Homo sapiens: one gene and its partners. The protein of the gene in region 1 interacts with the protein of each later gene in a pairwise test. Each region holds a gene or a part of one and is shown in the gene's direction. Other genes may lie near its edges.

Region 1 (3,829 bases):
GAAGAATTCCATTGTCCAAGGTCAGAGCAAGAACACAAAGGTTTTAGTTTACTTAGTTAATTCCTTAGGTTTGGACATTACAGGAGACATGGGGGTGACCATAGCAATTTAGCTGATAAATGTATCAGAAACTCTTTCATCATTTTCTGTCCCCTCCTATCTTAGGCTGACCGGTTCCCTGATGTGTTACCTGCTTCTGCTACTGATCCAAACTGCAGAACTTCTCATTCATCCCCAAGGCCTCCAGGCAGTATCCAATGGGGAATCAGCTCTAAAAGGAACCAGACCAACGTTTTCCAGCCCCTTCATTCTGGTGACTGAGGGGAGGAAAGAATGGGAGGGGGTATTCTTGTCTAGTGGATGGAAAGGAAACACACTGTCAAATTACTATATCTCCTTGGTTTTCTATTACAGTAGAATTCTCCAGCCATATTTTTATTGTCTATGGGGGAAGTTGGAGATGGTGACCTTGATTAGAAGTGTCTGGAGGGGGATAAATGGAGGGGATAAGATTCAGTTGGTTTTGGAAAATGTTAAAGTCTTAAAATAATGCGTCCATCTGAAGAATTTTTTCTAAAACCAGAGTTTATAAAAATATCACTGATACAGCCTGCCCCCTCATTTCCCTGCCACAGGAGATGTCTTGGACTAGAGACACTTGTTTAATAATAGCTTGTCTCTGATATTCCCAGTAGCTTCCCTCTGTGTGAGGAAAGGATAGAAATGTTCAGGACATCATCATACAGGCTCCTCATCTACAAAGTTCCAGTAGCAGTGACGCCTACACGGAAGACTTGGAACTGCAAACAGGCTGGGGTCACCTCAGTGACATCTGACGCTGTCCAACCAGAAGTTCGATTTTTGTTCTGGGGGTGAAGGAGGAAACAGACTGTACTAAAGGACTAAAATAATTTGTCTATACTATCTCACTTGTTTTTATTTTTGGCGGGAGAGGAGGGGTGTTGGGATAGAATTTCACATCCTATCTTGGAGTGAAGGGGAGGATGGGGAGGCTCAGCCCTTCACCCAAGAATAACCCAGTAATGACATCTCTACGCGTGGGAAGTGTTTCCCTCCACACTGAGAGGATCTGAGGCTGCACCCCAGTGGGATTCCCTGCTTGAGTTGGAAGGCCATCTCGCCATGAGATGCATATCATAGCGAGAGCGCAGAGGGCTTAGCCGGCCGGGGAGGAAATGCCAAAAGGAAGAGAGGCTCGAAGTCGAAAGGGCTTCCCCCAGTTTGGAGGTGGGGACCATGCTGTGCATGAGCGACTGAAGAGCCGAGTGTCCGCCGTGGCCTGTGCCCTCCGCTGAGGGTCTAACAGGGACGCGACGGTGCTGGACACCGTGTCTGAGTCACGGGAGACGGCCCAGCTGTGCCCAGCGGGCCAGCGCCAGACCCTGGCGTCCTCCATCTTCTCTCCTGAGCTCCCCCTGCTCCAGCTGCCTGAGCCACGGACCGCAGCACCACACACCCCCGCGGGGGGGGACGCCGCGCCCCATCCCCGCCCCGGGCCCCACCCCAGCCCCCCCGCGGGGGCCCTGACCCCACCGCCAGCGGGCACTGGCTGAGCTCCGAGGCGGCGAGCCGGCAGCGGGGACGCCCAGAGGGGGTCCGGGCGACTGGGGGCGGCGGCGGCCGGGCCGGGGCTCCCCCCCCGCCCGCGCTCGCCGCCGCGGTGGTGCGTCCCGGAGGTTACCGGAAGTGGCCGCGCTCGGCGCTGCCATGTTGAGGAGCCGCCGCTGCCGTTGCCGCCGCCGCCGCCGCCGCTTTGTTGTCGCCTCCTCCGGCTGAGGAGGCTCCCCGAGCGGGGGGAGTGGGGAGGAGGGGGGTCGGCCGCCGCAGCCATGGAGGCCAACTGGACCGCGTTCCTGTTCCAGGTACTGGGGGCCCCCCCGGGGGGGCACGGGGGGGACAGGGGGGCCGGGCCCCGGGCTGGCGGGCGGGCGGGCGCTCCTCCTCCCCTCCCTCCCGGCTCCGCTCTCCGGCCCGGCCTTAATCCCCCTTTGTTTTTCCGCCCGCCCGCCCCGGCGAAGCGGGGCTGCTGAGGTGAAAGGAGGCGGCCTCACGGGGTGCGGGGGAGATAGCAGGCCGCGGGGTGAACCCGGGGGCCCCCCAGCACACACACGCACACACACACACTCACACACACCCTTCCCTCTCGCTCTGAAGGGGAAGGGAGGAGGCCGGTCGCTGTCACCACCCCGCGGCCCAGAGAAAGGAGGGCGCCGGGCCGCTGGATAGCGCGGGCTGCTGGGCCATTGCGTGCCGGCCCGGTCCCCCACGGTGGGGTGAGGAGGTCCCCAGGTCCTGCCCTGAGTCTCCTCCCCGCCACTTCATCCATCTTTCGCTTGTTCTCTTTTCACCTTCCTCGTCTTTTTGTGTGTGTGCGTGCGTGTGTTGACTTTCTGACCCCCTCCCGTGTCCCCGCGAATAGCGGGTATCCCCAGGTTCCCCGCCACTCCCCCTCACCGCCACCACCCCTCTCGTGTTTACCCAGTTGGGGGGGCGGATGTTGTGAGTGTGTATCCCCTCCCCAAACTTTTTCACTGGATTTACATTTTTTTTTCCCAAGTCTCAGCCGAGCCTTGGCAGCTGACACCTTCTCCCTCTGTCCAGCTCTCCCGCCGTCCCATTCAGCCTGGGGAATCCCCCAGCCGGGCCGGCCCGGGGCAGGCGGGGAGCGGTGGGGGCCGGGACTCCTGGAGGCCCGACCTTCTCCCGAAGCGCTTTTCTTTCTCGCCCACCTCGAACGTTTCCTCCAACCAAGTGGAGAGAGCAAACAAAGTCCGCTTACAAAGCCCCCAGATGAGTCACTCTCTGGGATGTTGGTCTTCGCTTTTTTGCAAGAAACTTGAAAGTGACTGTAGCCGATGTGTTTTGGCAATTCTCTTGCCCGCCCACTTTAGATGGGGGACCCCTGTTTGGCAGATCTAGGCTGGAACTTATTTTTTTCCTACTTCGTTTCTGTTTGCAAAACGAAGCATTCAGTGGGCAGTAGCGATGAGCTCACGGGGAAACTTCGGAACTGGAGGAGGTTAGGAAGCTCGTCACTTTTAAGTGCGTTCTTCCCGCCTCTCTGAGTTATTTTCCTTTGAATACTTCGTGAAATCCCAAACGCGTAGCTGGGGCGCTTGATACCTTTTGAAACTAACAGGAACGGATGCAGAATTTTCAAAAAATTATTCTCCCAGCCACTGGATTCATCCTAGTGGAGTTAATATAGAGAATTGGATAACTCAGAAATTACCTACTGTGTAGACTGGCCTGTTGTTTTAAGACATATTTTTTCAAATGTGGGCAATTTGATCTTTAAGTAGTTATGGAAATATATTTGGGCTTCTTAAAATCTAAAATACCCAACATTATGGAATTCATGAACTTCCCCCTTTTCTCATTCTGATCAGTGTTGTTTTATTGTACTTTGATGAGCTTGCTAATAATGTGATAAACCAACTTGAAAATGCATTGGAAAAGAAATGATATATAACTAGCATGCATCCAGGTTGGTGTAAAGGTGGCAAATACTTTCCCCAGAAAAAAGCTCAAATGGTTATTTTAAAATATGGGATTGATGTGCCACTGAAGTGATTTTCGTGTGATTAAAAACCATATTAAGCATGGTGTCTATAGAGATTGAAAAAAAAAAGTGTTCTTCATGTAAAGGAAAAACCCATAACACATCTTTGGAAAGCTGGTTGAAAAATCTTTTGAAATACTTTTTTAAAGATTATTTTTCTCCTGGGTAAAACAAATGCCAAGCGTTTATTGATCAACTTTTTAATTAGATTTTATATTATTTAATTTTTTTCAGCTATTAAAATCT
Region 2 (3,600 bases), on another chromosome or scaffold:
ACAGTATCAGGCAAACCTGAAGGACTGATCACATGGCATCACTGTTAAAAGTGATGAAGTTTAATAGCATAAAACAAAAACCCCTCCTTTGCTTGTCTCAAAGCATACTATATGTACCATCTACAGAACCCTAGTTACCTCACACCAAGACAGATATGCCAAAGATTCCACAGCCTCAATAGCATGTGTAGGATATCTGCTAATAATTACCTCCTCCTTGCCATCCGTCAGCCACTATGACAAACTCTGGGTTTTTCCCGACATGAGATTAGGCACATGAGTATAGAATAATTATATCACTATAATTAACTGTAACAAATCAAAGACTTTTTTTTTTAAGTTCCGGAGTATGTGTGTAGGATGTGCAGGTTTGTTCCATCAGTAAACGTGTGCCATGGTGGTTTGCTGCACTGATCAACCCAACAACTAGGTCTTAAGCCAGCCTGCATTAGCTACTTTTATCAAATGTTATGGGCTGAATTGTGTCCCCCCCAAAAATTCATATGTTGAAGTCTTAATCCCCAGGACTTCAGAATAGGATCTTTACAGAGGTAATTAAGTTAAAGTAGGTCATTAGGCAGGACCCAAATACAATATGACTGGTGTCCTTATAAGAAAAGGAAAAAAATGACACAGACAGGTACAGAGGGAAAAACCATGTGGCAATACAGGGAAAAGTCATTTAATATTCAAAATGGTCCCGTATGTTAATATTATCCCCATATTATAGATGGAGAAACTGAAGTTTTGGGGATGTTAAATGAGATCTCAGATCATCCTATGAGCAAGCACCAGGATGCAGGATTCAGATGGGAATCTCGTGACTCCAAATCCCATCCACTTGTTACTTTCAGTGGATAAGGGACTGAAGGACTTTGGTCCCAACTCTGCCCTAAACTAGTTGTGAGACCTTCAAAAAGTTATGAATTTTTTGCCATCTTCATTTATTCATCTGTAAAATGAAAGACTGGAATTGAATATTACAAGGGTCTATCTAAGGGCCTGCTAGTTTTAAGAATTTTGCTCAAATCATCGTTTTCAAACTCCTGAAGAAATTACTTCTATAAATTCATTAGAATTGAAAGGAAATTCAGTATTTGGAGAATCACGATTTTGCCCACAGAATTCAAGGATTTATTGGAAAAATATACATACTTGCAAATGTTTTTGAAATATTATGACCTTAACTCATTTTAAAAAGTCATTTATATAGGGCTTGCATCCCATTCATTAACTTTCTGTTGTTAACATTTTCTTCATTCTGAGCTTTTAAAGACTGCACACAACTTCATGAACAAAATACAGGATTAAAATTTTCTGACAGAAAATTTAAATTCCAGTTTTAAAATCTTCAGGGAGTAATTAAATGGTCTTGAGGGGAAAAAAAACTTGGTTGCAGACCTTAGTTTTTAGGTCTGAGAAAATGGAGTAAATGGCTTCCTGCTTGCGTGGCAGGAAAGTTTGCCTTTAAATAAGAGATTATCTGTGAAATACCTTTGAACTCTGTGGAGGGAAGTTGCTGCATACATTCAATGGCAAGGCATTTATTACAAGCTCACGATATTAGGCTGTTTTTTTTTTTTTTTTTTGCCAATACTTCCTCAGTTTTGAAAAATTACGTGGGTTACTTGATTTGTATTTTTTTTCATACCTGTAGAAGTTAGGGTGCATTGTTTTGACAGGAGCAGGGAAGTATTGTAGAAAATAATTTTTATCATAATGGAGTATGGCAGGTTATATGACTGCGAGGATCAGAATTGTGAATCATCTCTTGTGTGTCTTCAAGTAAATAAAGGCAATCTGCCCACGGAGCAGAAAAAAAATCTACAAACTACAAACTCTGTCCAATCATGTAAAGACAAATCAGCCTTCAGGCAAATCAAATGTCTTCATTCAAAGTCTACCTGGATTTGGCACTCTGCCCATCGTTTCAAAACCTCTTAACAATACGTTTCACAAATAGTTAAAAACATGCATACTGAAAAGCATACTTTTGCAATGTTATTTTTAAAAACAAGGAACTCTTTAACCCAGGGAAGATAATCACTTGGGGAAAGGAAGGTTCGTTTCTGAGTTAGCAACAAGTAAATGCAGCACTAGTGGGTGGGATTGAGGTATGCCCTGGTGCATAAATAGAGACTCAGCTGTGCTGGCACACTCAGAAGCTTGGACCGCATCCTAGCCGCCGACTCACACAAGGCAGGTGGGTGAGGAAATCCAGGTAAGGCTCCTGACAGCAGCTTTAGAAGGGTACTTGCTGGAGTGAATTCGGGCCTCTGATTGCTATATAAAGTTGTAGGCAATCAAGCAACAGAGAACTGCAAGTTTCCAAAGGCAATGAAGTAGGATACGGAAGGGAAATCATGGAATTTCCACAAAAGTCTTACTGGGGCCTTTCTTTGGCTAGAGCTGGCACAGTGTGACGTTCCCGAGTTAGTTCAGAGAAATGCTTTCTCTTTTGCGAAACAAAATTTCCAAGAGTAGGTGAATCCTAGGATTTTTCAAGCCTGGGACAGGGTCCAGGGATTTTCGTCTCAGTCACCATCTAAAGCTTTCTTTCCCACGGGCTAAAGCAAAGCCCCATAGGCTTCTCCACTATGACACCTCAGCTCGGATTGCCCGCTTGGAATATATTATTGCAAATCAGAAAACAGTTTTCTTTCTCTTTTTGCTGCAAAGACATTCTTGTTGCCTCTGCAATCTTTAAATTCATGGGATAGGCTATTAGAGGAGAGAGCTGGTTGCTTTCCTGAAGCATCTACAAATAGGGACACTAAAATGTCTTGCAAGTTCATTATTTGCTAAAGACAAGAAGACAGGGATACGGTGATGAGTAAAAAGTGCTGGCTTCACATAATGTGTGTGTGTGTGTGTGTGTGTGTGTGTGTACCTATGTCTGTGTGTGTCTCCAAATTATCAATATTTTCCATGGAATTGTGTTTTGAGGTGGTTTATGCAGGAAATTTGCAGAGCAGAATCTATTCACATTACGAAAACTCAGTGGAGTGAATCTCAGAAAGTCACCCCACAGCAGGATGTTTGTACAGCAGGAGTTATGTTAGCCTTCCTTGAGTCATCCTGCCGTAAAACACAAGCAATATATCAATAGTTCCAACCTGTGATCTTTGGAGATACTGCAAGGTCCTAATAGCTACTTGGAAAACAAGAACTGTAAATGGGCTAAGTAAATAAAAATGCCTTACCATCAATTTACTATTTTTTAGAATATATATAGATGCTGTTATAAATAAAAGATAAAATCAAATGTTTGTTGATAGATTCAAAGAAATTATTTGCCATATGTTTCTGAACCAGCCAGTATTCCAAATGTATAATTATTCTCATGTAAAAGTTCTTGATTTTTTTAACATTACAAAGAAGTCTTTATACAAAGAGGGCTGAGAATTGTTGACTTACAGTGAACACTTAGGTTGTTTTTGCAAAACTCTAGAAGACAAAAGTTATTGGCATTTCCACATCTTTGTAGGTATAGAAAATGAACAAAGTATATCCCTGATTTTTGCTTACATCTTTTCTGAGTAAGACATTTTGTGCTTACATACTATGGATTAGTTAATCATTGGTCAGTTAAATACAAAA
Region 3 (3,829 bases), on another chromosome or scaffold:
GCCACATTGATCCCAGACAGATAGCTTTGCTCCTCTCTGTTCTCTGTGTTCTCCTGCTGCCTTCATGGATCCCAGCATGGTTTCTCAGATGATTGGCCTGCAGGGTCAGTGTTGACTAGCCTTTTAGTTCCTCTCTGTGAGAGCAGCACATACAAGCTGCTTCTCGTCTGCCATCTTGGCCCTATCCCTCATCTTTATTTTCATTTCCTTTGGCCTAGGTAACTTTTTTTGGTACTTTTTCATTTTGCTTTGCTTTGCTTTGCTTTGTTTACTCTCAATCTTTGTATCTCCTTAGAAGTTTAGTGTGCCTCGTGTAAAAATCATATAGCTGAATTTGTTTCTTTTTAGCCAAACTGAAAAATCTTTGTCTTTTATGTCTTTTAGCTTCCACTTTAGTCTATTTGTGTTTGTTGGATTTGTTCATATGTTTGTATTTCTATCTAAAAACTTATTTTTAAAATTCATTTTCTATTTGTATCATTTATTCTAGTGCTTTTTTCCTCCTTTCCTATTTTCTTTTAGATATATTAGATGTTTATAATTGTAAGTTTTTCTTACCCATTTCTTTTTTTCTTATACTGGTTTGGAAGTCATATGCTCTATTACTATTCTTATAGTGCTCACTCTTAACATTTTACCATGCTGACTGAATTTAGTAAAGCCTAAATTGATCAAGGTTTTACTTCTCTTCTTAATAGCACATGAACTTTATTAATACTATATCATTATTGTTTTTTTTTATTTTTACAAGCATTTTTGTTTTATTTTTGCAAGCATTTTATTTATCTACACAAATATTTCTATATACTTACATGTTTACCAAATTGTTTGCTCACTATTTCTTCCCTTTCAGATCTTCTGTCCCTAAAATATATCCTTAGTAATTTCTGTAGGAGAGGACTGCTTTGTTTAGTTGGAACATTAATACTTGTTCTTGTTTCTTTTCTTCCTTTTTTTTTTTTTTGAGGTGGAGTCTTGCTGTGTTGCCTAGGCTGGAGTGCAGTGTCACAATCTTGGCTCACTGCAACCTCTGCCTCCTGGGTTCAGGCAATTCTCCTGCCTCAGCCTTCCAAGTAGCTGGGGCTACATGTGTCCACTACCCTATCCGGCTAATTTTTGTATTTTTAGTAGGGATATGGTTTCACCATGTTGGCCAGGCTGGTCTCGAACTCCTGACCTCAAGTAATCTGTCTGCCTTGGCCTCCGAAGGTTCTGGAATTACAGACATGGGCCTCTATGCCCAGCCTTGTTCTTGTTTTGAGAGAGATTTTTGATAATTCCAGAGTAACATTATTTTCTATTAGCTCTTTGAAGAAATTTCACCCCTGTGACTTATTTTCTCTGTGATGTTGTTTAAGTGTTTTAGAGATAATGTAGTCATCTTATGAGTCATAGTGAAGATCAAATATATATAAAGAGCTTATTAGTGTTTCTAACACATATTTATCACTATATAAATAAATAACCTTATTTTTCTTTTTTCCCTCCTTTTTTTCTTATAATTCTTATTATTGCCAATGCTGCTCAGCAATTCACTAAAATGCATCTAAGTAAAAATTTCTTTTTATTGACACCACTGTTTATCCTGTTTGGTATACATTTTTCTTTCCAAACATGTGGTTCTAGGTCTTAAATTTTCTAGTTTCTGTACATTCTCAACCCTTAATTCTTTGAATGTTACATCTATCTTTTATTTCCATTCTCTTCTGGAATTTTGATTAGGAAAATATACTTTTTTATTGTATCCTTTATAATTTTAACCACCTATACTGTGTTCAGTTCCTCATCTGTCTATAGTTGGGATAATTTTTTCAAATATGTACTTTATTTATTTTTATTTTTTATTTCCATAGGTTTTTGCGGAACAGGTGGTGTTTGGTTACATGAGTAAGTTCTTTAGTGGTGATTTCTGAGATTTTGGTGCACCCATCACCCAAGCAGTATGCACTTTACCCAATCTGTAGTCTTTTACCCCTCGCCCCACTTCCATTCCACCCTTTCCTCCAAGTCCCCAAAGTCCATTGTATCATTCTTATGCCTTTGCAGCCTCGTAGCTTAACTCCCACCTGTGAGTGAGAACATATCATGTTTTTCATTTTTTTTCCGGATTTATTTCCCAATTCATTTACTCTGAATTTTGCTGTTTCTCATATGCTATTTAACCCATCCATTGATTTCTTAATTTCAATAATTTTATTTTTAAAATTTCTAAATATATATTTTTTTCAGATTTGCAGATTCATGTTATAACCTTACGTCGTTTGATCTTTTTATTGTAGCTGTTATTTCCTTATATACTTTACTTATAGTTATATTTTGTACCCTTTAATTATAACAACTAGTGTCCTTCAGGGTATTTGTTAATTTTATTAGCTCATCCTCAGTCATGGCTTCTTATTTCCCATTATGTGTTTGAGAATAATTTTGTAAGCTCATACTTGGTTGAATTTTATTTGCAGAATTTTGAGTAGCTAATTTCTAATAACTTGGGCTGTATACCAACAGCGTGGATCTACATTATTAGTCAGCTCAGTCTGCCATAACAAAATAACAGAGACTGGGTAGCTCAAATAACAGAAATTAATTTCTCACACTCCTGGAGCCTAGAAGTCTAAGACCAGAGTGCCAGCCTGATCAGGTTCTGGTGAGGGCCCCCTTCTTGCCTTGTAAATGGCTGCCTTCTTGCTGTGTCCTCACAATGCAGGGAGCGAGTTAACTCCAGTCTCTTTCTCTGATTATAAAGGCACTAATCGTATTACAGGGTTCCCGTGCTCATGACCTTGTCTAAACCTAGTTATTTCTCAGAGGCCCTACCTCCGAATACTGCCACATTGGAATTAGGGCATCAATGTACGGATCTGGGAAAGGAGTGGCACAGTCAGTCAGTCCATAACATTCACTTGTGCTCTTTTTGAGAGCTTTGGTTCCTTCTATTTGTGTGGAGCCCAGGGAAACTCTGATCTTTTGCATCTCTTAAAACACACTTTTTTGATTTTAGTGTACCATTCTTTTTCTCTCTCTTGATTTCTCTCAGCCCTCAGAAATGGCCTTTATTTTTTCATGAACCAAAGTTATACAGTTTTCCATATTTCAGGCCATGTTTTTGAAAGGCAAAACCATTTCAAAAGAATGTTCAGAAATTTATATTTGATATATTTTGGATTTAGTATATGAGCTCTGACTCTATATATTAAAAACTTATGGGAATATTGTTTATATTTATTGTTGACTAAATATCAGTTACAGCACTCACAAAGAAATAATACTGCTTCATTCTAGTTGTAATTATTCCAGTGTGATTTGTTTTTTTTGCCTGGCACATGGTTTAAAACACAAAATAAGCATATAAAACTTATATGAGAGGGTTTTTCAGCCACAGGCAGAAACATACCACAATAATTTTTATCCTATGCTAAGATTTTGGTCCATAATAACATGATACCCATTGGAAAGATAGATTTGAGAAAGAAGCATGCTTAAATAATTTTTAAATTTTTTTACATGCATGTTTTTGGATAAGTGTATTGTTCAATCTTTAATATTAAAAACTAAAATTCTGAATGACAAACATATGTGCAAACCAACTATTGTGGCAAAAACAGTTTTTGTTGGTGAAGGGACTAGCTGCCATTTGGTGATTTTTCAGATAGTCAAATTTGAAAAATCAATTGGATCTTCTCTTCTCTTCTCTTTTCTCTTTTTGAGATGGAGTCGCAGTCCCCCAGGCTGGAGTGCAGTGGCATGATCTCGGCTCACTGCAACCTCTGCCTTCCGGGTTCAAGTGATTTCCTGCCTCAGCCTCCCGAGTAGCTGGGATTACAGGCACACG

Evidence for each region.
Region 2: the proteins of VEZF1 (region 1) and AGR2 interact in binary tests that used the Homo sapiens proteins (3 or more experiments, as listed by UniProt).
Region 3: the proteins of VEZF1 (region 1) and SPAG16 interact in binary tests that used the Homo sapiens proteins (3 or more experiments, as listed by UniProt).

Annotation. Positions count from the first base shown.
Region 1 is NC_000017.11:57,986,133-57,989,961, reverse strand, and holds the start of VEZF1 (vascular endothelial zinc finger 1), read left to right. Parts: upstream 1-1,707; 5' UTR 1,708-1,850; coding exon 1,851-1,883; intron 1,884-2,011; exon of another isoform or gene 2,012-3,829. UniProt on the Homo sapiens protein: Possible transcription factor. Specifically binds to the CT/GC-rich region of the interleukin-3 promoter and mediates tax transactivation of IL-3.
Region 2 is NC_000007.14:16,803,556-16,807,155, reverse strand, and holds the start of AGR2 (anterior gradient protein 2 homolog precursor), read left to right. Parts: upstream 1-2,156; 5' UTR 2,157-2,221; intron 2,222-3,600. UniProt on the Homo sapiens protein: Required for MUC2 post-transcriptional synthesis and secretion. May play a role in the production of mucus by intestinal cells. Proto-oncogene that may play a role in cell migration, cell differentiation and cell growth. Promotes cell adhesion.
Region 3 is NC_000002.12:213,924,406-213,928,234, forward strand, and holds part of SPAG16 (sperm-associated antigen 16 protein), read left to right. Parts: intron 1-3,829. UniProt on the Homo sapiens protein: Necessary for sperm flagellar function. Plays a role in motile ciliogenesis. May help to recruit STK36 to the cilium or apical surface of the cell to initiate subsequent steps of construction of the central pair apparatus of motile cilia.